3 separate regions of the Homo sapiens genome follow, and regions 1 and 3 are each linked to region 2. The links come from fine-mapping of genetic effects on gene expression. A gene starts in region 2. Each other region holds a variant in brackets. All regions are shown on one strand. Distances are between the middles of the regions. Region 1 has its middle 11 kb from the start of MIR29A. Region 2 holds the start of LINC-PINT (long intergenic non-protein coding RNA, p53 induced transcript). Region 3 overlaps LINC-PINT (long intergenic non-protein coding RNA, p53 induced transcript).

What was found. PIP is the estimated chance that this variant, and not a neighbour inherited with it, causes the effect.
Region 1: its variant is fine-mapped to the expression of LINC-PINT in whole blood (TOPMed, PIP 0.99).
Region 3: its variant is fine-mapped to the expression of LINC-PINT in whole blood (TOPMed, PIP above 0.99). The same link has a PIP of 0.9 or more in tibial nerve.

What each region holds. Positions count from the first base shown.
Region 1 is chr7:130,861,937-130,869,963 of GRCh38, reverse strand. No RefSeq gene overlaps it. Among named protein-coding and RNA genes, the nearest start is that of MIR29A, 11 kb to the left of the region's middle. The variant A/G (reference allele first, on the strand shown) is at 3,911.
Region 2 is chr7:131,105,557-131,113,583 of GRCh38, reverse strand. LINC-PINT (long intergenic non-protein coding RNA, p53 induced transcript) reads left to right here and starts at 3,659. Exons shown (of 8, transcript NR_170176.1): 1 at 3,659-3,847; 2 at 4,781-5,864. It also overlaps a transcript of MKLN1 not described here. RefSeq lists silencers at 2,094-2,153, 3,304-3,453, 3,534-3,583, 5,641-5,700, 5,721-5,770 and 2 more and enhancers at 1,871-2,412, 4,807-5,658.
Region 3 is chr7:130,953,201-130,961,227 of GRCh38, reverse strand. The region is part of intron 5 of LINC-PINT (long intergenic non-protein coding RNA, p53 induced transcript); the gene reads left to right. Among named protein-coding and RNA genes, the nearest start is that of LINC00513, 44 kb to the right of the region's middle. RefSeq lists enhancers at 1-62, 616-705, 32-1,231, 3,050-3,109 and a silencer at 3,911-3,960. The variant C/T (reference allele first, on the strand shown) is at 4,410.

The sequences.
Region 1 (8,027 bases), 240 kb after region 2:
ACTTCATTCCTTTTTATGACTGAATAATATTCCATTATTTGGATAGACAACATTTTGTTTATCCACTCACAGGTTCGTACTGGCATTTGAGCTGTCTCGTTCTTTAAATTTAAACTTTTATTTCTGTCAGTGTAATATATATCCATAAACAAGTAAGAGGGCACTGAGTCCCAGAGCAAACAAACAGCTGTTCTCTGTCCTACTGTTTTCTCTCGCAGGCAGCTGCTTTCAAATCATTTATCTGTTTCTTCTGATAAGAGATTCTATAGACTGTTACTTCCATTTTAAAATGCTCATACCTCTATGTCTTCATTTTGACTTTATTTTTTTAATTTTTTTAATTTTTCTACTATGGGAAATGAGAATTTAGCTTTAACTCCACTGCCACCTGTACACATATTACTCCATTCGCCTTCACAATTTAGTTAGAACACAGTTTTCGGTTAACTCAAGAATGGTATTGATAATTATATAGATACTGTTGATATCATAACTACATAGTTTTAGATTTCCTTTTAAAACTTCTTATAAACTCTGAGATGAATAATTTCATCATTTTAAATTTAATTCATGATATACTTAATTCCTAAACCTTACAGAACTGTAACATTCCCCTCAGCATTTTCAGACCCCACACACAGTCAGTGTGTGTGTGCGCACACACAGTCAGTGTGTGTGCGCACACACAGTCAGTGTGTGTGTGTGTGCGCGCGCGCACACGCACACATCCTTCAGCAGTTTCCTGACAAAGGTCATTTTTTTTTAGGTTTTTCATTTTGCCCATATTTTATTGATCATTTCACTGGTTATGGAATTCCTGACTGGCTCAGATTTTGGTTTTCTAGCCCCCAGTGCTGTGAAGAGGTCTGATACAATGCTGATTTCTGGCCCTTTTGCTCTGGAAGTTTTGAGGAGATTCTGTTTATCCTTTGTGTCCTTTAAATTTCCTGAGTTTGTGCCATAATAGAGGTCTTTTTCATTTAATATACCTTTTTTTTTTTCTTTTTCTTTTTTTTTTTTTTTTTTGACAGGGTCTCACCTCACTCCCATCGCCCAGGCTGGAGTGCAGTGGTGTGATCACAGCTCACTCCAGCCTCGACTTCCCAGGCTCAGGTGATCCTCTCACCACAGCCTCCCAAGTGGGTGGGACTACAGGTGTGCACCACCATGCCCAGCTAGTTTTTTGTATTTTTAGTATTTACCTCCATTCTACAGCTGTTAAAACAGAGGCATCAGAAGGAAGAACAGCTTTCCTTGGTCAGTGAGGATGGGAAGAAGCTCTAGTGTTTCCTCTCCTCCATTCCTTCTGGGTATAATGGCCACCCATTGCAGTGGGCTTTGATTTTTTTCCAAGAATGGAGCTTGGAACCCCATAGAAATTGTGTTTTGTTAATAAGCTGACGGAAGGATTTTTGGCATCGATTTTAAATTCCCATAGTCTGCTTCTAGCGAAGCTCCACACCTCTCATTTACTCTCTCTCTCCTCTTCAGGGGCCAAAGAACAAAGTGTAGTCAACTGTTTTGAAGCCACCCTGTTTTGAAGAGGCGTTTTCCACTCAGGTGGCCTTGCACCGAATGGCCAACCCTGCCCACTGTACGGAAACAATAGATGCTGCCTTAGAAGGGAGCAAGCTGGCACTGCCCTGGTATGTGGGTGCGGCCAGGAAGCTTTGGGCCAAACTGTGCAGACTTGCTGTCTCAGGATTAGCACTTTCTACAGCCAGAGTGGAGACGAAGGGCAGGAGGCACACAGCCCTTCCTCCTGGAGATGAAAGGGGTCTGTAGGTGGATGAGGACCTTGTTCACCAAAAGTCACAGGAGGAAGTCAAAGAGGAGGAGGATAGAAACATAGTGGTGCTTCTATCACCTATAAATTCTGCATTCATGAAAAAAAAAGTCCACAAAATTATGGCCCTGAACCAATCTGTATCAACCCTGAACATGCTGGATGCCACCCACTGTGGGTTGGGCAGAAGATGGTGCAGGCCTGACAGAAGTTGGTAACCAATACTGTGCCAGAGGCTTGGTGTGGCAGGAGGTGACAGGACAAAGGTACCAGAGGATGCCAGCTGGGTGTCAGCCTTCTTAGCTGTCAGAACTGGTCTTGGAAAAAAGGACAGCCGTTGGGTATGCTTTTGTAAGAGGCATTTTTGCTCTTGCAGATAGCTGCCTCTCTCTTCCTTCCTGTGACTGAACAGGCCAGAGAGGAAGGTCAAAGGCAGGCAAGAGAACAAGGACAAAGGCACAAAGTGTGGATTGTACATGGACTCCTGTTCTAATCCAGCTCACTTACCAGCTTTCTATGTCAAAAAACAAAAAATTAGAAACTTGGATGGGAAAGAGGCTGGCACAAATGTAAATTATGAACTGAGTTCCAAAGGAAAAGAGGCAACAGATAAGAGATTCTTGTGGGTACCTTACCTGCGAATTACTTTGAAATGGCCTTGGAAGGGTCCTGATGGGCATGGAAAAAAAAAACCCACTAGCCCCATTTTCCCAATATAGAAGCGAAGGTCAATAGCAGTACCTCGAAATGTCTGGGAAGTGAAAGTGACAGAGAAAAAGAGGACTTGTGGACATATGTGTTGGCCTTTTTTATCTGAAGGTGCTATGGCTGGTGAAGATGGGCTGCGTTCTGGGTCCCTGGGAGAGCTGATCCTGAGCTCATGTCTCTGTCCCAGCAGCAGGAGCCCCTCAGTGCTATAGAATGTGAGGTCTGCTGTGAGTCCAAAAGACCAGACATGTGACACATTCCTCTGCTTTCTGGAGCATAGTATCAGCCCTTAGAAGCAGCTGTTCACCTCTCCTTTAGTAGCTCAGCAAGAATTCAGTTCAGTAAAAATTTATTTAGCACCTACCCTGCTCCAGGTACTCTCTAGGCACTGAGAGGGGTTTTCCTGTACTGTGCCCAGAACTCTGCTCCTCAGGCCTTTCTCAGCTCAGGATACTGGCTTAAGCAGCTAAACTGATCGCAAGTGCCACCCTTCCATGCTGCTAAAAACCCATGCTGTTCTCCTAGACAAAGTTAATGTCTGGCTCAACATACCACACCTTCTCTCTTAAGTCCTTAAGTTCTGAGAAAGGGATCCCAGGAGGTATGCAGGACTCTTGATGTTGAATGAGAGGCAAGACCCTCCACTCCTGTTGCTCGACCCTCTCCCAGGTCCCCTAGAGGAAAGGCTCATCCTGTGGCTTCTCCCTCCTAAACCAATCCCTGTGCATCCCTTTCTTTGTTTGTGCCACGTCCACACACTAATCTCTCTGCCTTGTGTTGGCAGATGCTGGTGGGATGGAGCTGCAGTTTGTGTCTCTGAAGCAGATTAAACACTGTCTGCCCCAGCCTGTCTTAACTATCTTCTCACTGGTTAACAGTCCTTGGAAGAATAAACAATCCACACAAGCTCTCAGAAAGCAGAAGTTCCATGATTCGTGACCAGAGTCTCATAGCACAGAATTCATCTCTAAAAACAGGTTTGTAGCTGACCAGACTCCACCAACTCAGATATGTCCACCCCTAACTTGAAATGAAAGGTGAGGGGAAGGTCGAGCTCAGAGCTCAGTACTCTAAGGACTGCCTCTGGTCAGGTTCCAGATCAGAACAGACCACTGTCCTGTCACTATTGGTCTAACACATGGGATCTCTGGTAACACACATAGTACATTCTACTTTGCATCACCCACATGCACGTTTTTCTCACCAAATAGACTGTAAACTTCTTGATTCAGGGTCCATATTCCTAGCATATGCCTAGCATAATATAGGTACTCTCTGTGTTCAATCACATTAGCATGGAAAGTACTATTCCCTGCAGATTCTGTGGGATTATGGAGGATCAGCCTATGACAGAGCTTTATATAAACCCACATTTGCTGAATGTCAGCAATGAAGCAGCCCACTGCTGCTGACTCC[A/G]GTGAAGTCAGCAAAACCCACACTGAGCAGAAGCCCTTGTGGTTGTCTTAGGAACTGTGACATACCTCTTATCATTCGCCATAAATGGCAAAAATATTGTGCTTGGCCTGCCTTGAGTTTACTTTGGGGCCAGGTTGTTTTCTGACAATTCAAAGAACTACTCCTATGTAGATGGCGTTCAGGAAATGGGAGCATCCGAATCTATAAATTTTAGCCAGAAATTTCCGCTATATTTTATACCTCAAAAGGAGCTCAAGGGAGCAGATAAGGTTGGTAGAAGTACAGAAGGGGGGTGGGGGTGCTGCACTTCCCCATATCACTTCTAGCACATCTCACAACTAAGAGTTTGAATCTACTACCTTTGTAGGAGTTCAATTTTCAAGTTCAGAGGATTCAGCACCATGGTCAGAGCCAATGACATAACAAATGTGAACCTGAAGGAAACCCTCTCTGTAGGAGGAAAACAAAGGGAGTCTTTCAGAGAAGTATTCTCTGTCTTCCCCCACTCTGATAACCTCTAAGCCAATGCTTAGGTTAGCCAGAGGAAAAAAACCAACTCCCAACTCCATGTTATGACAGGCCCCTTCTGTCTTCAAGTGTTGCCTGAACTAGGAACCATAGGTCTCAATCTGAATTTATCCCATTGTCTTTCTCACTTTGGCAGTAAGTTATGTCTTCTTTTTTGGTGATTTTTTTTTAGAGACAGAGTCTTGCTCTGGCACCCAGATTGGAGTACAGCGGTGCAACCACGACTCACTGCAGCCTTGACCTCCCAGCCTCAGATGATCCTCCCACCTCAGTCTCCCAAGTAGTCAGGACTACAGGTGTGCACCACCACACCTGGATAATTATTTTTTAAAACTTTTGTAGAGATGGAGTCTTACTATGTTGCCCAGGCTGGTCTCAACTCCTGGGCTCAAGCAATCACCCTGCCTTGGCCTCCCAAAGTGCTGGGATTACAGGCATAAGCCACCATGCCTGCCCCCTCCTTTTTTTTTTTGTATTTTTAATTTATGTATCATAGTTGTACATATTTTTGGGGTATGTGTGATATTTTGATATATGTATACAATGTGTAATGATCAAATCAGGTTAATTGGGATATGTGTCATCTTAAATACTTACCTTTTTGTGTTGGGAACATTACAGTTCTTCTAGCTATTTTGAAACATACAATAAATTATTGTTAACTATGATTTTCTTACTGTACTGTTGAATACTAGAACTTCTTCCTTCTAATTTTATTTCTGTACCCATTAACCAACTTCTCTTCATTCCCCCTGCCCCCACTCCGTACCTCTCCTCTGATAAACACCATTCTACTCTCCACTACTGGCCACTTCCATGAGATCCACTTTTTAAACTCACACACATAAATGAAAATATGTGACATTGGTGCTCAATAACATGTAGTTCCATCCATGTTGCTACAAATGACAGGATTTCATTATGTTTGTGGTGAAAAAATATTTCACTGTGAATATATACCACATTTTCTTTATCCATTCATCTGTTGATGGACACAGGTTGATTCCATAATCTTGGCTATTGTGAATAGTTCTACAGTAAACATTGGAGTGCAGATACCTCTTCGATATATTGACTTCTTTTGGATATACACCCAGCAGTGAGATTCCTGGATCATATGGTAGTTTTATTTTTAGTTTATTGAGAAGCCTCCATACTGTTTTCATAGTGGCTATTGTACTTACATTCCCACCAACACTATACCAGGGTTCCTCTTTCTCTGCATCCTTGCCAGCATTTGTTATTTTTTTCTCTTTTTGATAATAGATTTCTAACTGAAGTGAGTTGATAACTCATTGTGGTTTTGATTTGCATTTCCCTGATGATTAGTGATGTTGAGCATTTTGTAATCTACCTGTGGCCATTTGTATGTCTTGAGAAATTTTTACCCAGCTCTTTTGCCCATTAAAAAAAAATCAGATTGTTATTTTGCTATTGAATTGTTTACATTTCTTACATATTCTATGTATTAATTCATTGTTAGATGGATAGTTTGCAGATATGTTCTTCCATTCTGAAGGCTGTCTCTACACTTTGTTCCTTCCTTTGCTGTCTAGAAGCTTCTTAGCTTGATGTAATCCCATTTTTCTATTTTTTGCTTTGACTTCCTATTCTTTTGCGGTCCTACCCTAAAAAATCTTTGCCCAAACCAATGTCCTGTAGCATTTCTTCAGTGTTTTGTTCTAGCAGATTCATAGTTTTAGGTCTTACATTTAAGTCTTGAATTCATTTTGAGTTGATACTTGTATATGATGAAAGATGGGGATCCGGTTTTATTTTTCTGCAAACAGATATACAGTTTTCCCAGCACCATTTATTAAGGAGACTCTTTTCCCCCCCAGTATGTGTTCTTAGTGCCTTTGTTGAAAATGAGTTGGCTCTAAGTACAAAGACTTATTTCTGAGTTCTTCATTCTGTTCCATTGGTCTATGTGTCTGTTTTTATACCAGTACTATGCTTTTTTGGCTACTATACCTCTGTAGTTTAATTTGTTTGTTTTCTGAGACAGGGTCTCTCTCTGCTGCCCAGGCTGGAGTGCAGTGATGCAATCTCGACTCACTGAAACCTCCGCCTCCCAGGTTCAAGTGATTCTCCTGCCTCAGCCTCCCAAGTAGCTGGGATTACAGGTACCCGCGACCATGCCCAGCTAATTTTTGTATTTTCAGTAGAGACGGGGTTTCGCCATGTTGACCAGACTGGTCTCGAACTCCTGGCTTCAAACAATCTACCCACCTCAGCCTCCCAAAGTGCTGGGACTAGAAGCATGAGCCACTGCATCTGGCCTGTAGTATAATTTGAAGTCAGATAATGTGATGCTTCCAGCTTTGTTCATTTTGTTCAGGATTGCTTTGGCTATTTGGGGTCTTTCGTGTTTTCATATAAATTTTAGGATTTTTTTTTTCTATTTCTGTGAAGAACTGTCATTGGTATTTTTATAGGAATTGCATCAAATCTGTAGATTGCTTTGGGTAGTATTGTCATTTTAACAATATTAATTCTTCTGAAAAGTGAGCATGGGATGTCTTGCCCTTTTTATCCTCTTCAATTTCTTTAATCAATGTTTTGTAGTTTTCCTTGTAGAAGTCTTCCACCTCCTAAATTTATTCCTAGGCATTTTATTTGTAGATGTTGTAAGATTGCTTTGTTGGTTTCTTTTTCAGATTGTTGGCTGCTGGCATATAGAAATTTTACTGATTTTTGTATGTTGATCTTATATCCTGTAACTTTGCTGAATCTGTCACTTCTAATAGGTTTTTTTGGTGGACTCTTTAGGTTTTTCTAAATATAAGATCGCGTTGTTTGCAAACAAGGATAAGTCAACTTCTTCCTTTCCAATTTGCATGCCCTTTATTTCTTTCTCTTGACTAATTGCTTTGGCTAGTACTATGTTGAATAAAAGTGGTGAAAGTGGGCATCCTTGTCTTATTCTAGTTCTTAATGCAAAGGCTTTCCATTTTTTCCCATTTAATATTAGCTGTAGGATTCTCACATGTGGCCCTTATCACACTGAGGTATGTTCTTTCTTTCTTTTTTTTTTTTTTTTTTTTTTGAGATGGAGTCTTGCTCTGCTGCCCAGGCTGGAAGTGCAGTGGTGTGATCTCAGGTCACTGCAACCTCCACCTCCCAGGTTCAAGCAATTCTCCTGCCTCAGCCTCCCAAGTATCTGGGACTACAGATGTGTACCACCATCCCTTGCTCTTTTTTTGTATTGTTTTAGCAGAGACGAGTTGTATTAGGGTTCTCTTTTACTGTATTAGTTCGTTTTCATGCTGCTGATAAAGATACCCAAAATTGGGAACAAAAAGAGATTTAATTGGACTTACAGTTCCACATGGCTGGGGAAGCCTCAGAATCATGGCAGGAGGCAAAAGGCACTTCTTACACGGCAGTGACAAGAGAAAACTGAGGAAGAAGCAAAAATAGAAACCCCTGATAAACCCATCAGATCTCATGAGACTTATTCACTATCACAAGAATAGCATGGGAAAGACCAGCCCCCATGATTCAGTTACCTCCCACTGGGTCCCTCCCACAACATATGAGAATTCTGGGAGATACAATTCAAGTTGAGATTTGGGTGGGGACACAG
Region 2 (8,027 bases):
TCCCAAACTGCTGGGATTACAGTAGTGTGCCACTGCACCCAGCTGAGAGATCTTTCTAAAATGAACATTTGATCAGTTCACTATGCCCCTTAAAATTCATCAGTGGTTCTCCACTGGCCTTAGAATAAGTTCAAACTTTTTAGGATAACATACTCAACCATGCTAATCTTTCTGGATTTCTCCTCCAGGACTTCTGCCATGCATTTATACAATGTATTTATTTAGAACCTACTTGCCAGGCTCTGTTCTTCACCCTCAACTCCCTGCACACAGCTTTTTCCCTAAGGTCTTTACACATAGTACTTTCTTTGCTTGGAATATCTTTCCCTGTAACCTGCCCACTTGTCTGGCTTACTTCTACTTATCCTTCAGAACGCATCTCAAGATTCACCTTGTGTGGTTAGAGACCCTATGCGTGGTCAGGGTTAGGCACCATTCTTATGAGCTCCCCTGTTGATATCATCTCACTGTTGCGTGATCAACTGTATATTCATCTTTGTTCTCATGATACTATAATGTCCTTCAGAGCAGAAACTGTGTCTTATTCATCTTTGTATTCCCAGCACCCAGCACAGTACCTGACACACAGCAAGCACTCAATAATGAATAAAGTGGCAGAGTTGGGTTTCAAAGTCAGGTCTTTTCTCTCTGGCACAAATCTCACATTTCTTCATGCTACTTCTCAATACTGTGAATTTGAAAAATTCCAAGAGCTGAGCTAGGTCTATTTTTGCCTAGCACTAATTAAAACACAGGCAAATAGATTATTATTAGTTCCATGAGGATTCAGTTGATTATTTTTTTGTACACCCCTTCCTCCATCATTCCACCACTTTGATCATCAGAGTACTTAGGATTACCTATATCTAAAATGACTGAAAGGCTAGGCATGGTTGAGTGCACCTGTAGCCCCAGCTACTCAGGAAGCTGAGGTGGGAGGCTTGCTTGAGCCCAGGAGTTGGAGGCCAGCCTGGGTAACACAGTGACACGTTGTCATAATAAATAAGTGAGTAGACTGAAAGAACTTTCTCTATACTTTTATATCCTTTTGTAACTCTTATCCTGTTGCTTCCATAATACCACTGAGGCAGGGAGAGACTAAGTACATGGGGAGCAAGGTAAATTTTATTTTTCTGTCAACAGACACTAAAAATGGATACATCAATAGAAAGTCATTTCCCATCATTTCCCTCAAGGTTCCTATGGATAGATATTAAAGGTTCAGTGCTTAAATTTAACATTGCAAAATCCAGCTAAAATTGAAATTTTTATGTAGTGAGTTCAATCTCATCACAGAAGTTTGTAAATGGGAGGAACCTTAGAAATCCTTTAGTCCAGCACTTTCATTTAAGCTTCCACGAAGAAACTGACATAAGACCTACAATGGCTCACTCAAGGTCATCCAGGCTATCGATGCCATTATACATCTTTTTCAAAGGGCTTCATTTTCCATCTAAACAAATTATCTACATCAGAATCCACCTATTTACATAGGGCTTATCTTTCTGATATTGCCTTTGCAATATCCTTGTTATAAAGAGGAAGGAACTGAAAACAAACAAAACAAAACAAGGTTGTCTTGTCCAGGGACATAGAGGAATTGGTAAAAAAGACAATTAGTACACAAAGTGATGGGGTTTCCTATTTGTAGTGTAGCCTTGTAGTCACACTGTGTTCTCCGAATGCCACAATGCTAACCCAAAATTACTTGTCCTTCCTGGGCCTGGATTCCATTCAATTTTATGCCTTGTTTAGTCTAAATGATTTCCCCAGCTTCGACATGTATTTATTTATTTATTTATTTATTTATTTATGCGTTTCATTTTAGAAGTATACTTAAATCTACTCTTTACTCGAGTTTGTCTTAGTTCTAGTGCTGAGGAATGAAGATTCTGGGTAAAAGAAATCAAGATGATGTTTTTTTTTTCTAGGCTTTACATTTCAAGGATTGTTTCTCAAATGGCAACTGGCAGTCTACTCCTCAAATGATGACGTTTTCCACAGGAATTACAATTTAATTGGAATATTTTGTTTTCAATGGGAAGCAAAGATTTCTTTCCAAGAGGATCAGTTTGATAATGTTTTACCAGCTAGTGCTACGAGACCAAATATAAACCAGTTCTGAGAAACAGGAAGTGAACTGACTGGTCTAGTCTGAGTGTCCCTGGCAGTGACGCAAATACAGAAATCAAATTAGGAAAACAAGATATGTGGGTGTGAGGCAATCGATAATAATCCAGGATGCTACAACATAAGCAAGAATGCCTTTAACCCGATGCCATTCATTTTAATAACACCCTGAGCAGTTTGATTTCCACGGAACACGCTGGTGATTAGAGAGCAGCAGGAGCTTGGGTTCCCTAGCAACAGCATGTGCTTTTGAGACAGTCATTAGCCTTTCAGTTAATCCCATCAACCCCTTACCTCTAAATGTATGACTGACATAAAAAAAATGATGTTTTAGAAAGTGCTTTGAAATTTCCAGGAGTGCAATGGAAGGGAATAATCATAATTAAAAAGTTGTCTGGAGAACTACACTCCAGTGAAGGAAGTAATGTTCCTACGTGCCAAGCCTGTCCGTATATTTCCCTGCTCTCAGTTGTAGGTTTCTGAATCCCCTGTGGCAAAGGGCAAGGGAGGTGAAATTGTTCAGAGTTTCAGGCAGTCTTCTCACCTAAAGTGAGTAGTATTGCAATGTCTCTTGGAATCATGGCTCTGAAGATGAGGAGAGAAGCGGGATGGGCAGTTTGTGTGGTGAGGAGGCTGGCTGCAGGTAGGCTGGGAGGGAATGTCACACATAGTTTTCTTTCTCCTTTAAGCCGAATGAGGTATGCTGGTCAAAGGAACTTGGGGAAGGAGGATGGTGAGGGGAATGAAGTTCTTCTTCCTATTGATTGTTTTGTTGCACCAGAGGCTGTTTGTCCAAGGCCACTGGCCAAGAGCATTATTTTCGTGGCTAAAGTGAGGTTGGGCAGGTTTCCCATCCCTTTCACTAGTTTTGAACAAGACAACCCAGAAAGCGCAGCAAGGCTCTGGGAATATGATGTGGGTTGGCTTTTCCTACTCAGCTGCACCTTAAAGCGCCAGGCCGATGGGCTGATACTTCTCAAACCCTGAATCATTGCCTCCAGCTCTGTCCTGGGTTCAGGATGCACCACTCCACCCTCTGTGTAGCTTGGGGTCAACTTCGGGGCGTCACTCCAATAGTAATTATTGCTGCGTTTGGCTGGACATCCTTATTACGGCCTGGGTCCCTCTCAGCTGGAAACTGGGCTCCTTCAGTTTGGCTGGGGTGACTTCTAGCACTTCCCGCCGCCCCACCTTACCCCCCTGCGCGCTCCCTTCCCAAGGCGACCACCTGCACCGCCCCACTTACCATCTGCCCCGCGGGGAGGGCCCCCCGGGCTAGCGGAGCCCTCCCTGCTCCCGGGCGGCTCTGGAGGAGCTCGGTGTTTGCCTCTAGCCCTTCGCTACCGGAGGATCAGGTTCCTCCCCTCCTCCCCCTCCAGCTCCGGCCGCCGCCGCCGCCGCCGCCGCCTCCTTCTTGCATGACACAGCAGAACCGCAGCTGCTGCAGCAATTTCAAGCCATCCGCCCAGGAAGCGCCGCAACCGGGACTCGGGAGGGGTGGAGGGGGCGAGGCAGAGGCCGCGGCCCCAGGGGATCCTTGGCCCCACTGTGCACCACACACTCCTTTCCCAGCCCAGGGGCACGCGAACAAAATGAGGCTCAAGCTGACCAGGCCGAGCCGGAGGAACGCTGGGGCTTGGCAGCAGAAGGGATGGGACCAGAGAGAAGGGTGTGGAGGAGACCCCAGTGAGGGCCAGGACATTTCAGGTAAAGAGAGGTAAGAAGAGGCCCAGAAGTCAAGGGCCAGACTGTGAAGGTGATTAGAGGTCAAAAGAGGTAAGGAGGTAGAGTTGCAAAGAAGAGAGGCCGAGCTGGGAAGGGCGTGGGGGTGGGGGTAGCTGCAGGGGAGGGTGGGGGGTACAGTCTTTGGGGAGGCCCGAGCTGAGCCCCCAGGCAGAAAAGGGGCTGAGTTGGGAGGCAAGGGAGGTAGGAGGAAAGGGATGAAAAGAATTAGGCATGAGATAGGAAGGTAAAACTTGGGAGAGATATTATAGAATTAGAAGGGTTGGAATGGAGCTCATTCATCATGGCTGATGAAGTAAACTGATGAGGTGGAGAGAGACAGAGTCAAGGCAAGGCCAAACGAAAAGATCTTCCATCCCACTCTTCAGTTTCTTGCGAAGTTTTTCTTGATTCCGCCAATCCACACAGTTTCCTTTATAAAATGGAAAAGCATGAACTAAAAAACCCAGAAATAGCTATCTGGCTTAGATTTACAGGATAAAATCTCCATGTCTGTAAAAACTTTAAGGCAGAAATTTGGGATTTATGGTACAAACCCTTTAAGGGACTGTGAGTCAGTAATACCCACAGCACTCAACATTGTGAGTTTCCACACATCCCTGGACTTGAGTGAGTCTTTCCAAGTGTTTGTTAATGGTACAAATGATGACAAAATTAGTGGTTCAAAAATATTAAAGTGCACATGCTTTTTGCTTTCTCTATGTATACAGAGATTACATATATGTATACTTTCTAGCGTCTAGCAAGTATGGTATGGCTAGGGATAATTATGTTTTTCTGATTATTTTGTTTCCCATCAAACACCCCACGAATTTTACAGCAGACCGCCTTCTTGTCACCATTTGAAAGAATGTGGTCAGAAAAGTAATGCAAAAACTGCCACTTTGGTTTTGTCTGTACCTTCCAGGTCATATCTCCGTACCTCACTTCCTGACACAAACAAGTTTTCACTGTTGTCAGCAACAAAGCCCTAATATAGCTGCGGAAGAGAAAAACTGCATTGCATTTTGCCTCCTGCAAGCATCATCAACAGTTACTGGAGGAACGTAATTCCAGAAAGCTTGAAAGCCGTGGTGATGGTAATTATGTATCAAATGCCTGGTTCTATTTCTGTTATTATTGTTTTGTCATTTCTGTTTTCCCAGCGATCTGACTGAACTCGCAGAGGGACAAATCCAGTTTTTCTTTTTGACTTTTGTCAAACTAAATCAGGCCTGATAGAAAACTCATTGCTCTCCGGGGAAACAAAGTAGGAGCCACGAAATGTCATTTTAACAGAGCGTGGGTTTGGTGACTGTAGGAAAGGATTTGAGGACGCTCCTTCTGTTCGGCTTCCTATGTCATGAGCACAGGCTCCACGCACGCACAGACACCACGGCTCCCGGATGCTGTGGCTCCCCGATCGGGGCTCCTGCAGCGCCAGAAGCCCCTCCGGGATGCTTCGAGGGGCTCCCGGTGGGTGGAGGTACGGACGCCGCTGCGGCCGCCGCCGCCAGTCCTGCTGCTGTTGTTGCTGCTGCAGTCACGTGGGAGCCCCTTTAAGTTTCCATAGAGAGGCCTCTCTGGTGTCACATGATGGACATGATATAATGAAACAACATTGTGGAGAGGAAAGCATTAGGGGAGCCCACGGCTACAAAAACAAGTGAGTGAGAAGAGGTGGGAGGAAGAGAAACTACGCCACCTCCCCTGCAGCCGAGTGCACGCAGCAGCCTGGCGTGACAAGTGGGCGACGCCGGGGGGCAGGGAGCCGGGGTCCTTGGCCCTGGCCGGGGACCCCACCGCCCACCGCGCGGAGGACAACTTTTAGCCGGCAGCCCAGACCAGCGCGGCACCTGTCTCCGGAGTCTCCACCGCTCCTCCCGATTCATCCCAGGGAAATTCTCAAGAATACGCTCTACAAATCTACGTGCGCATCATTTTCACCTCGCGTCGCGCCCGGGAGGAAGGAACGAGGCAAGGAGCTAAAGCAGCGTGCGTTCAGCCCTGGGGTAAGTTCGTCGGGTGGGGAAGCCGGTCCCGCAGGACTTTGGGATGGGAATTTTGCTCTCCTTTGCGATCTCAGGGCGTGAAGAAGGCGTCCCCTCCGCTGCCGGCGGAGCTGATCGGCTGGCTAGTCAATTTCCCCTTAGCACGCCCCGTGCGCCCACCCTCGCTCAGCCCGGGGCCCCCTCGCCGTCCCCCGGAAGGGGTCTGCGGTTCCTGGCCAGGACGTTCGGAAGGCGAGCGGGGGAAGGTAGGGCTGTCGCGGGAACCCGGCTTGTGAGAGCGATTTCGCCATGTTTGTGTTGCTAAGAGCACTTTTTCCCCTTTGCTGTGGCTTGATGCCACATGGCTCCTCCGGAGCTGCTGCCGGGCTGAGAGAGTGTTTTTTTTTTTTTTTCAATGTCCGCATTCCAGCTAATGTTGCGCAGATAAAATTCAAACTTGAGGTAAACAGAAGAAGAGGAGGAGGAGGAGGAGGAGGGGAGGGGGGAGGAAGGGGGGACTGTTTCCATTTCGAGATCCCACCTCTTCCCTCCGCGCAGCCCAACATCCCGAACCTAGAGACAACTCTTGCCTTTCTCCCACGTCCCCCACCTTTGCTGTCAACAAGAAATAAAGGCGGGGCGGGGGGGGGGGTTGGAGGTAGGGGGTGGCGTGCTTATTAATTAGAAAGGACGCGGTGTCTCGGTTCTCCACTGGAATCAGCAACTCCCTGGAACTCGGGCCTCTGGCCCCGTCCCTCTTTTCTCCGGCAGGGACGCAGGATGCCTTGGTGCACTCTAGAGACGGGGACCGGAGGGTGCAGCGCGCCTGGGTGGGGCGAAGGGCGCCGGTCTCCTCACGCCCTCTGACTTTAGGATACCAGACAGTGTCTCTTCAACCCCACCCCAGGCGCAGGTTTCCAGAAGGCGGGGTGGGTGGGGCCCCCGATTTCCAGAAGGCGAGTTACCTAGCAGGTGTGTGGGGTGGGCATTGCTATTCGGTAAGTCTGTTGCATGGGGTAGGATGACGTGGGGAGCTTAAAAGCTTTAAAGCCAGCGCAAAGGTAGAGCTGCGTCTGCTGTTTTTGTTTTTTTTTTTTTTTCCCTGTGTCTGTGGCAAATTAAGGAGAAAAATCAAGACGTTCCCTTCAGTCCTCCCTCGGTGTTAACGTCTGCTCCAGCTCGCAGCCCGCTGCTGGGTGAGTGGCGACATCAGGGCGAGGGTGAGCTTCGTCACGGGGAAAGCTGGAGGCTCCTGACAGCTCGTAGCCGTCCTCCCCTCGCCCCGCCCTAGGCGGAAGGTGTGGGTTGGGTGGTCCGAGGAGGGTGACGTCCAAGGTGGGGTGGGCACAGGCTCGGGATCCCTCGCAGCGCTAGGGGCCGCAGCCCCGGTCGCCGGGGAGTGCCATGGCAGGGAGGCGGCAGCCACGTGAGGGGTCTGCGGAAGCGCCGGAGCTGAAAGCTGGGGGCGAAGTGCGTAGCAGAGTCGTGACGGGGGTGACACGCAGCAGCCGGGGGCGGCGGGCCGCCGGAGCCGGGCGCCTCCCACGCAGGGCCGGCGTTCCCCGCCGCGGGTGGGTGCGCACTCGCCGGCCCTCTCCCGGGAGACCGTTTCCGGGAGCGGGCGCTGGCGGGGCGGGGCCGTGGCGGTAAACAGGGTGGTGCCCTCTGCCCTCCCGCCCCCGGCCTGCCGGGGCGCGCGGCCGGCGGTGCCCGGGGCGGTGGAGGCGCGGTCGCGGCGCCGGGCAGCGGGGGCGCGCCCGCTCTCTGCCGCCCCCGCGCGCGCCCGCCGCCGCCCGGCCGGCCTCCTCTGTTTTTGTTTTGATGGAGCCCGCGTGCAGCTGGCGCGTGTCGAGTCACGTGCCGTGGGCGGGAGGGGGCCGGGGCGCGGGAGGCGAGGGCGCGGTGACACGGGCCGGAGGGGCCTGCGCCCGCGGAGGGCGCGCGAGGGGGCGTGTGGCCCCCGATGGAGCCCTGCCGCGCGGGTGCCCCGGCGCTGGCTGAGGGGCTTGGCGCTTCTCGGCGAGCAGTGCTAGGTTTGTCGTCGCAGCGCTTCGGGGAGCCTAGTCCAGGAGAGAGGACCTGCCTGCGCTGCTCGGCTCAGAACTCGGACCTTACAGGTGGTGTGTACATCCCGGTGGACGGGTAGACACTTCTGTGTGCTCCTGAAGGCCGGCTGCGTGTAAT
Region 3 (8,027 bases), 150 kb after region 2:
CGCAGCCTCCAGTCTTGAGTGACTCCTGGGCTTTGGCTCAGCAGTAACTCCTCCATAAAAACAAGTGTGTGCATCTGGCTGTTAGAAGAATTCATGCTCATCCGGGTAAGGATAAACTGGAGAAATTATTCCTTTTTTTCCCTTTGGGTGGTTTTGAGGTTTTAGAAAAATTGATCCTCTCTTTGAGAAGAGTTCAGAACTATTTGTCTGAAGTTTTTCCATCCAAACTGCTTTATCGTATTATCCACTGTCTTACCCTTTTCCTGTGAAATCTACCCTCTTCAAAACATAGTTTCATTTTCAAATTTTAAAAGATAAGATTCCATTTTTCTTTCCGTGCATGAAACTTTAAAAATTAAATCACCACAGTTGCTACTGGCTTAGAAGTGGGGTCTTATATTTTTAGGAAGTATACTTTAAAAGTTAGGCAGAGGGGAAATCTATGTTTGCATTTGATTTATGAAACAGTGACTGTTACATTAAAGGGCGGATTTTCAGACATACTACTTGATCTGCTCTGACAAGCTATGAGCTCTCTCTCTCTGCCACTTTTCTCCCGAACTGTGTTCTAATGGTGGAATCAGCTCATCTTTTTTCCTTAGGCATGTGGTTTAGTCTGTGTACATTCAGCGCGGTGGCATTTTTCTTGAAGAAGTGACTAAGGCTTCTTGGATGAATTCTGTCTTTGAAAGAGGTAGTAGAATTGCATCAGAAAGGCATTTACAGTAAATGGCTACCCCCCCTTCCTGTAATGACCGCATGTGAAAGAATGCATTAATTCTTGTTTTGAGGAAATGAGAGTTGTAGAGTTCTATGAAAAACTCCCTTTTTTATCATTAGTTAGCCAGGTTTGAATGTTCACATTTTAAAAATCAGGCTCATTTTGTGCTATCTAAATAAAAGTCACAAAGATACAGCTTTCCACTCCATGTTCTATGTGGAGTAACCAATCATCCTGAACTCAAAAAGAGGAAATTATGTTGAATATGGCTACAGTTAATGGCATAAGCCTAAACTAAATTAATTTCTTCATAGTCTTTTTTTATATTAAGTTACTGTGCTTCCTAGCTATGTTGCTGATTTGTCCATCAGGATTTGATTCTCAGTGCGACGGACGATGAAGACTAAAAGGAAACTCCCATAGATGATCTGGTCAGGAGTTCTCATGGAAGCAGTACCGCCCCCTAGGTGACAGAGTGGAAATTTATGAGGGTATTCTGGTGGTACAATGAAGGATTTTTCTGGTTTTTTTTTGAGATGGAGTCTCACTCTGTTGCCCAGACTGGAATGCAGTGGTGTGATCTCAACTGACTGCAACCTCCGTATCCTGGGTTCAAGCAACTCTCCTGCTGCAGCCACGTGAGTAGCTGGGATTACAGGCCCAAGCCACCACACCCAGCTAATTTTTGTATTTTTGGTAGAGACGGGGCTTCCCCATGTTGGTCAGGCTGGTCTCAAACTCCTGACCTCAGGTGATCCGCCGGCCTCGGCCTCCCAAAGTGCTGGGATTACAGGCATGAGCCACCTCGCCCAGCCTAATGAAGGATATTTCATGAGTGAGAGCGAGAGAACTTAATGTCCCACAGTAGAAAAGAGATAAAGAATTGCCCTGTAGTACACATGACTTTCAGTTATCCTGTTGGACATTCGTGTAGGGAAAGATCAGTTTATAATTTTCTGAACCTAGACTTTATTTTTTCATAAAAATGCAAAATAATTTTTGCATACTTTTAATATACACAGAATAGATTCATTTTCATTCTCTGGTCCACCTATACTACTTCTTTCATTTTCCTGCACTTTTAATATGGAAAGCTTCTAATCTGACTTCTCTTAAATACAAGCTTCTTCTTTATAAGTAAGTTACAAGCATCTATTTGATTACATAGTTAATTGTACCTGAAAATTATTTATATAATGAAATGTGAAGTATTTTTTATTATAAATTGCTTCTTTTAGATTATCTTTTATGTACATTTAGGATATTCATGTTTTAAAGCTGCATGTACAGTAGTTAATATTATCAACAAATTTGATTTTAGAGTAGTAAATGGGACATGACAGAATTTTTTTGTCATATAAAGAGAGCTATGAGAATAATGGATAGGGTTTTGAACCAATGAACCAATCCGTGCCTCAGCGTTTAAGGAAGGAGGGTATGCAAATTACCCAGATAGGAGGGATGCTTATCTTCTTCATGAAGTTCCCCAGGGAAGATTTCACGTGTACCTCATTAATTTGTATTAGTATTTTGAAATCTTCATAGTAAGCTAGTTCTTCTGTATTAATATTTTCTAGGAGTCTTCATATGTCACTCTAAAAACATGACCGGGCCAGGTGCAGTGGCTCATGCCTGTAATCCGAGAACTTTGGGAGGCCGAGGCAGGTGGATCACTGAGGTCAGGAGTTCAAGACCAGCCTGGCCAACATGGTGAAACCCCGTTTCTACTAAAAATACAAAAATTAGCTGGGCATGGTGGCAGGTACCTGTAATCCCAGCTGCTCGGGAGGCTGAGGCGGGAGAATCACCTGAACCCGGGAGGCAGAGGTTGTAGTGAGCTGAGATCGTGCCATTGCACTACAGCCTAGGCGATAGAGCAAGACTCTGTCTCAAAACAAAACATGGCCAGGCACAGTGGCTCATGCCTGTAATCCCAGCATTTTGGGAGGCCATGGTGGGCGGATCACCTGAAGTCAGGAGTTCAAGACCAGCCTGGCCAACATAGTAAAACCTTGTCTCTACTAAAAATATAAAAATCAGCCGTGTGTGATGGCACACTCCTGTAATCCCAGCTACTCAGGAGGCTGAGGCAGGAGAATTGCATGAACCTGGGAGACAGAGGTTTCAGTGAGCCGAGATTGTACCACTGCACTCCAGCCTGGGTGACAGAGTGATACTCTGTCTCAAAAAAACAAAACGAAAACAAAAAAAACCTGTGACTTTTGGTTACTCCCCTTCTGTAGAAAAGATGAGCAGGTATTGAGAGAAGTAAACTGTAAACTTGCAGAGGAGTTAAAAACAGACTCAGGTTTTCTTGAACAGTGGACATGGTGGCACTGTCCCTTTGTCATGAACATAGTCCACATATGCCATTACAAACTGTTGACAGTACTGTAAAATATAACACATTCTAGGTAAGGTATTGTCTATATGGTAGATTAAATCAGAAATACAAAGGCTGGGTGTGGTGTTTCACGCCTGTAATCCCAACACTTTGGGAGTCTGAGGTGGGTGGAGCACTTGAGGTCAGGAGTTTGAGACCAGCCTGGCCAACATGGCAAAAACCCATTCCTACTAAAAATACAAAAGTTAGCTGCACGTGGTGGTGCACACCTGTAATCCCAGCTACTTGGGAGACTGAGAAAGGAAAATTGCTTGAACCTGGGAGGCAGAGGTTGCAGTGAGCTGAGATCACGCTACTGCACTCCAGCCTGGGCGACAGAATGAGACTGTGTCTCAGGAAAAAAAAAAGAAAAGAAAAAAAGGAAAAAAGAAGTACAAGTGTGAGGTTAAGTTACTCAAGCATGTGCACACATAGTGTTCCCTATTGTTATTTGAGGCTTGCATTTTTAATTTCATAGAGCTTTTTCTTGTAGTTCTTTTTTGTTGTTGTTGTTGTTGTTATGTTGATGTAATTCTCAAATATTTCCAGGAATACTAATAAATTGGGGGTTTTTTTTTAGTTTTTTTAGAAAAAAATCTTTTTCTTAAATATTCTGTTTCTTTTTTGTTATTGTTGTTTATCTTGGTTTTTCTCTTTCATGTTGCAGACTTTTAAAATATATATTTGATTTTCTTTTTAAAAATGAAGTGCCATTACGGCTGCCTAGAAGTTCTGCATGACAGCATCTGCCTCTAGCAGGCTTCAGCCTGGGTACACAGAGCCACCCTGAGCCCTCTTGCTGGGGAACTGCTAGATGTCAGAATGAGGAGGGCTTGACTGTGGGGTTCTCTTAACCACACTAGCTATTTAGTCTTCACCAGACGTTTGTTTAATTTTTTTTAGAAAATTATCTCCCTTTTCTTATTTTTGCTCTGAAGTGGGGAAGCTATAAGGTTTTTTTTTATAAAGACAGGAAGTAGTCATGAAAAGAATAATTGTTATTTCCAGACTTTTCAATTACTCTTCTCCTTTCTACCTTTCTTGTCACTTCTGTCACAGTTCTTACTTTTCCTGAGTCTGGAGCCTGTTTGGGGTCCATCTGAATAAAATCAACTCTTCACTGCCTTGGCAGTACCCGCTCAGAACTCTCCGGGCTGTAAGCTGCCTCTGCTCAGCTTCATCGCTCAGTGCTCTCCCCACATCCTTCTGGCTTCCTGACATTTGGTGAAATCTCTCAGGCCCCTGAAACTTGTTGTTGTTGTGGGTCTACATACCCCTTTTATAACCGTAGTGGGGTCTTCCAGG[C/T]GCCCTGACCGCCATCATGAAAGGAGAAGTACTTTCATTTGTTGATTTGTCAGAAATATATCTGAACAAGTAAATTGGAAATACCTTTAGTCAGGCATTTAGCCAGGAAAAAGATTAGATGGAGCATGATGACTGCAGTGGGTACTGGGGCTTGGGAAAACAAACCCTCACAATTACTGGATTGGGAGGAAACAGTGGGCTGACACTATTATACAAAGATACACTTTCCAGCCAGTAAAGACATAGCCATTAATCATAGAGCCCCATAAGAGGATCTTTTAGCTTTGTTGCTAGAAGAAAGTTGCATCTTGTAAAACATCCAACTTAGTCATTTAAAAAAATCTTTAAGTAGTGGTACTTGTTCCTGATCTTAATACAAATTAAATGTGGATACGCTTGCTTGATTTCTTCCCTGCCCTTTAGCATAAGAGCTTCTGAGAGAATTTCCTATTCTTCCCTTCTGTACTATTTATTTCTTGGGCTATAGACCCTCATACTCCCTCTTCTTTTCCTTATAAGAAGCAATTCACATTCTCTTTTCCCATCTCCTTTGTGGAAAAAATCTCCAAACCCTTGTTAATTATCCCTTTGTCATGTTCGTCAGGTCGGTCCTGAAAGTGTCAGCAGACACTGTGAAGATGGGAAAAGTAAGATGTTGACTAGTTCTTTAACTTTTGTGACACAAGTGGTGTCCGTTTGTGTCAGAAGAAAGCCTGAATTGATGTTTCCATCTCATGCTTCCCTCCTTTTACTTAGAAAGCAGTTTCTTTGTGAAAAATCCCTGGAGATCTTTCTCAGAGGTATTCCACAGTTAGGGCCAATTACTGCAACATGATGGAAGCTTTAGGTTCTTCTCAGGCCTAGCCTCATTTCTAGCACAATACTAGGAGGCTAAAATCTATCTCTAAAATTTGCAAAGTAATAGTGATGGATGTTAGCTATTTTTAATGTAGCTGCTTAGAGACAGTTGAAGATAGTAAGGGTCATAAGGGCCTTCTCCTATCTGACCTCTGTACCCCTGTAAGTTGTTTACCAGCTTAGAGCCTCCTGTACAGTTCTAGATCAAAGAGCAAGTCCTCTGAGGCCATGCCCTTGGAAGCAGAGATGGAGAGTAGTGAAATCTACTTAGCTCTGAGGGTGTGAGCTCCCAGGCAAGCAGAACACACTTGGGATTTTATTCCTGGTATTGACCAGAACATCTATCATCAGCCTATGCCAAACACCCCCTTTCCACACCTTGTTTCTCCCACCTATTTCGCATAACTTCCTAGAGATGAAGAATGTTTCTGAGTGTGGATTGTCAGATGTCTGCTGAAAAATGGTGGGCCTAAAAAAAACATTCTGTGACTGCAAGAATGTAGAACACTCCCACACTGGTTCTGGGACCTGGCCTATTGGTTGGCTATTACTGTTGAATGAGAGGAGAACCAGCAAATTCTTTCTTTTCCTCTGGAGGAAATACCTTGTATGGATGGTCCCCCAGAGAAGAGAGAGCCATGGCTAGTTGTGAACTGAAGTAATCCAGATACAGGCACCATTTGATGGGATCTAAGTGTGCGAATCAAATTGCATTCTTCAGGAGGACATGGGGATGTCAAGACAATTAAGGAAATCCTACCATCCCTCCATTTTAATTGATGTAAAATTTACATGCATTGAAATGCACAGACATTCAGTGTACTCCTGTTCCCAGACCCCAGTTAAGAGAGAGAACGTTTCTATCACCAGGTTTCCTCTTGCCCCATTCAGTCATTCGCCACCCTCACTGGCAAAAACTTTCTGCTTTCTATCATTGCAGTCTTGTTCTTGAGCTTCCTCTAAATGGAATCATGCAGTATATACTCTTTTGCGTCTGGCTTTTTTTTTCACGCAACAGTTTTATATAGTTGTCTGTATCATTCTTCCTTTATTGCTGGGTGGTATTCCATTGTATGAATAGACCCAATTTTAAACTCTGTTCTCTTGTTGACTGACATATTGATTATTTCCCCATTTTTGGCTACTATGAATATTAAGCTGCTGTGAATGAGTTTTCTCTCACTCTCACTCTTTTTCTTTTCTTTCTTTTTTTATTTTTTATTTTGAGACAGTCCCACTGTGTCACCCAGGCTGAGCTGCAGTGGGGCAATCTCAGCTCACTGCAACCTCTACCTCCCAGGCTTAAGCGATTCTCCTGCCTCAGCCTTCTGAGTAGCTGGGACTACAGGCACGCACCACCACACCTGGCTAATTTTTAAAATTTTAGTAGAGATGGGCTTTCACCATGTTGGCCAGGCTAGTCTCAAACTCCTGACCTCAAATGATCCACCAGCCTCGGCCTCTCAAAGTGCTGGGATTACAGGCGTGAGCCACCACACCTGGCCCACTCTCACTCTTTTTTAGGTTTAATTGCTGCACCGTACACTAGGTGTATGTGTACCTCTGTAAGAAACTGCCAAGTCATTTTCCAAAGTAATCGTACCATTTTACACTCCAACAAGCAATTTATGAAAGTTCCAGGTGACCAGGTATCTTAACATTGTATATTGCTGGTTTTTCTACTTATAGTCGTTCTCTTGGATATGAAGTAGTATCTCATTGTAGTTTTCAATTTGCATTTTCTAGATGAATCACATATACTTATTGGCCATTTGTGTATCTTCCCTTTTGAAGTGTCTGTTCAAGTCGTTTGAGTCTGTTTTTCTTTTGCCTGTTTTAAAATTGGATTGTCTTATTATTTTGGTTGGTAGGAATGTTATACATATTCTGAATAAAATATTCTTGTCAGAAGTTTATAATGCAAATATTTTGCCAGTCTATGGTCTACCTGCTGTTTTTTAAAAGTGTCTTTTGATGAGCAGAAGGTTTTAACTTTGAAATAATTTCATTGATCAAAAATGTTTTTCCTTTGCGAGGCCAAGGCAGGGGAAGATCGCTTGAGCCCAGGAGTTTGAGAGCAGCTTAGGTAACATAGCAAGACCTCAACTCTCTACAAAAAAATAAAATATATTTTTAAAAATTAAAACAAAGATTTCTATATTATCTGTATTTTTTGTTTCCTAAGTAATCTGCCTCCCCAGGATTGTGCAGATATTTCTCTGTGCCTTCTGTTAGAAGACTTATAGCTTTAGCTTTTATGCTTTAGTTTATGATCTATCTCCAGTTGATTTTTATATATGGGGTTAAGTAGAAGTCAAGGTTCATATTTTTGCATACATTTTCCCAGTTGTTCTAACATGGATTGTTGGAAAGACTTTCCTTTTTCCATTGAATTGCTTTGGCGCCTTTCTTGAAAATCAGTTTTCCATATATGTGTGGGTCTATTTCAAAGGAACTTAAAGAATGTTTATATAGACCACATGCGGCATGTACTCAAGTCTAGGAAATAACAGTTCACATTGGTCAACCCTCAAGTGACTGGCATACTCTTTAACTTCTATATCGTGAAACATTTATGTCAAAGATCACTGATAGAAGCTGTATGTGGTGGGAGGCATTTTTTGCTTGTTTTTTGAAGCTAACCCTGCTGAAGCCTCCAGAAGTTCCAACATTCCCATGTTAAATGTGATGTTCTTATCTGCACAGAAATAGACCATAAAAAGTGAGATCTAGCCTGAGCCTGCAGGCGACTTCAAGAAG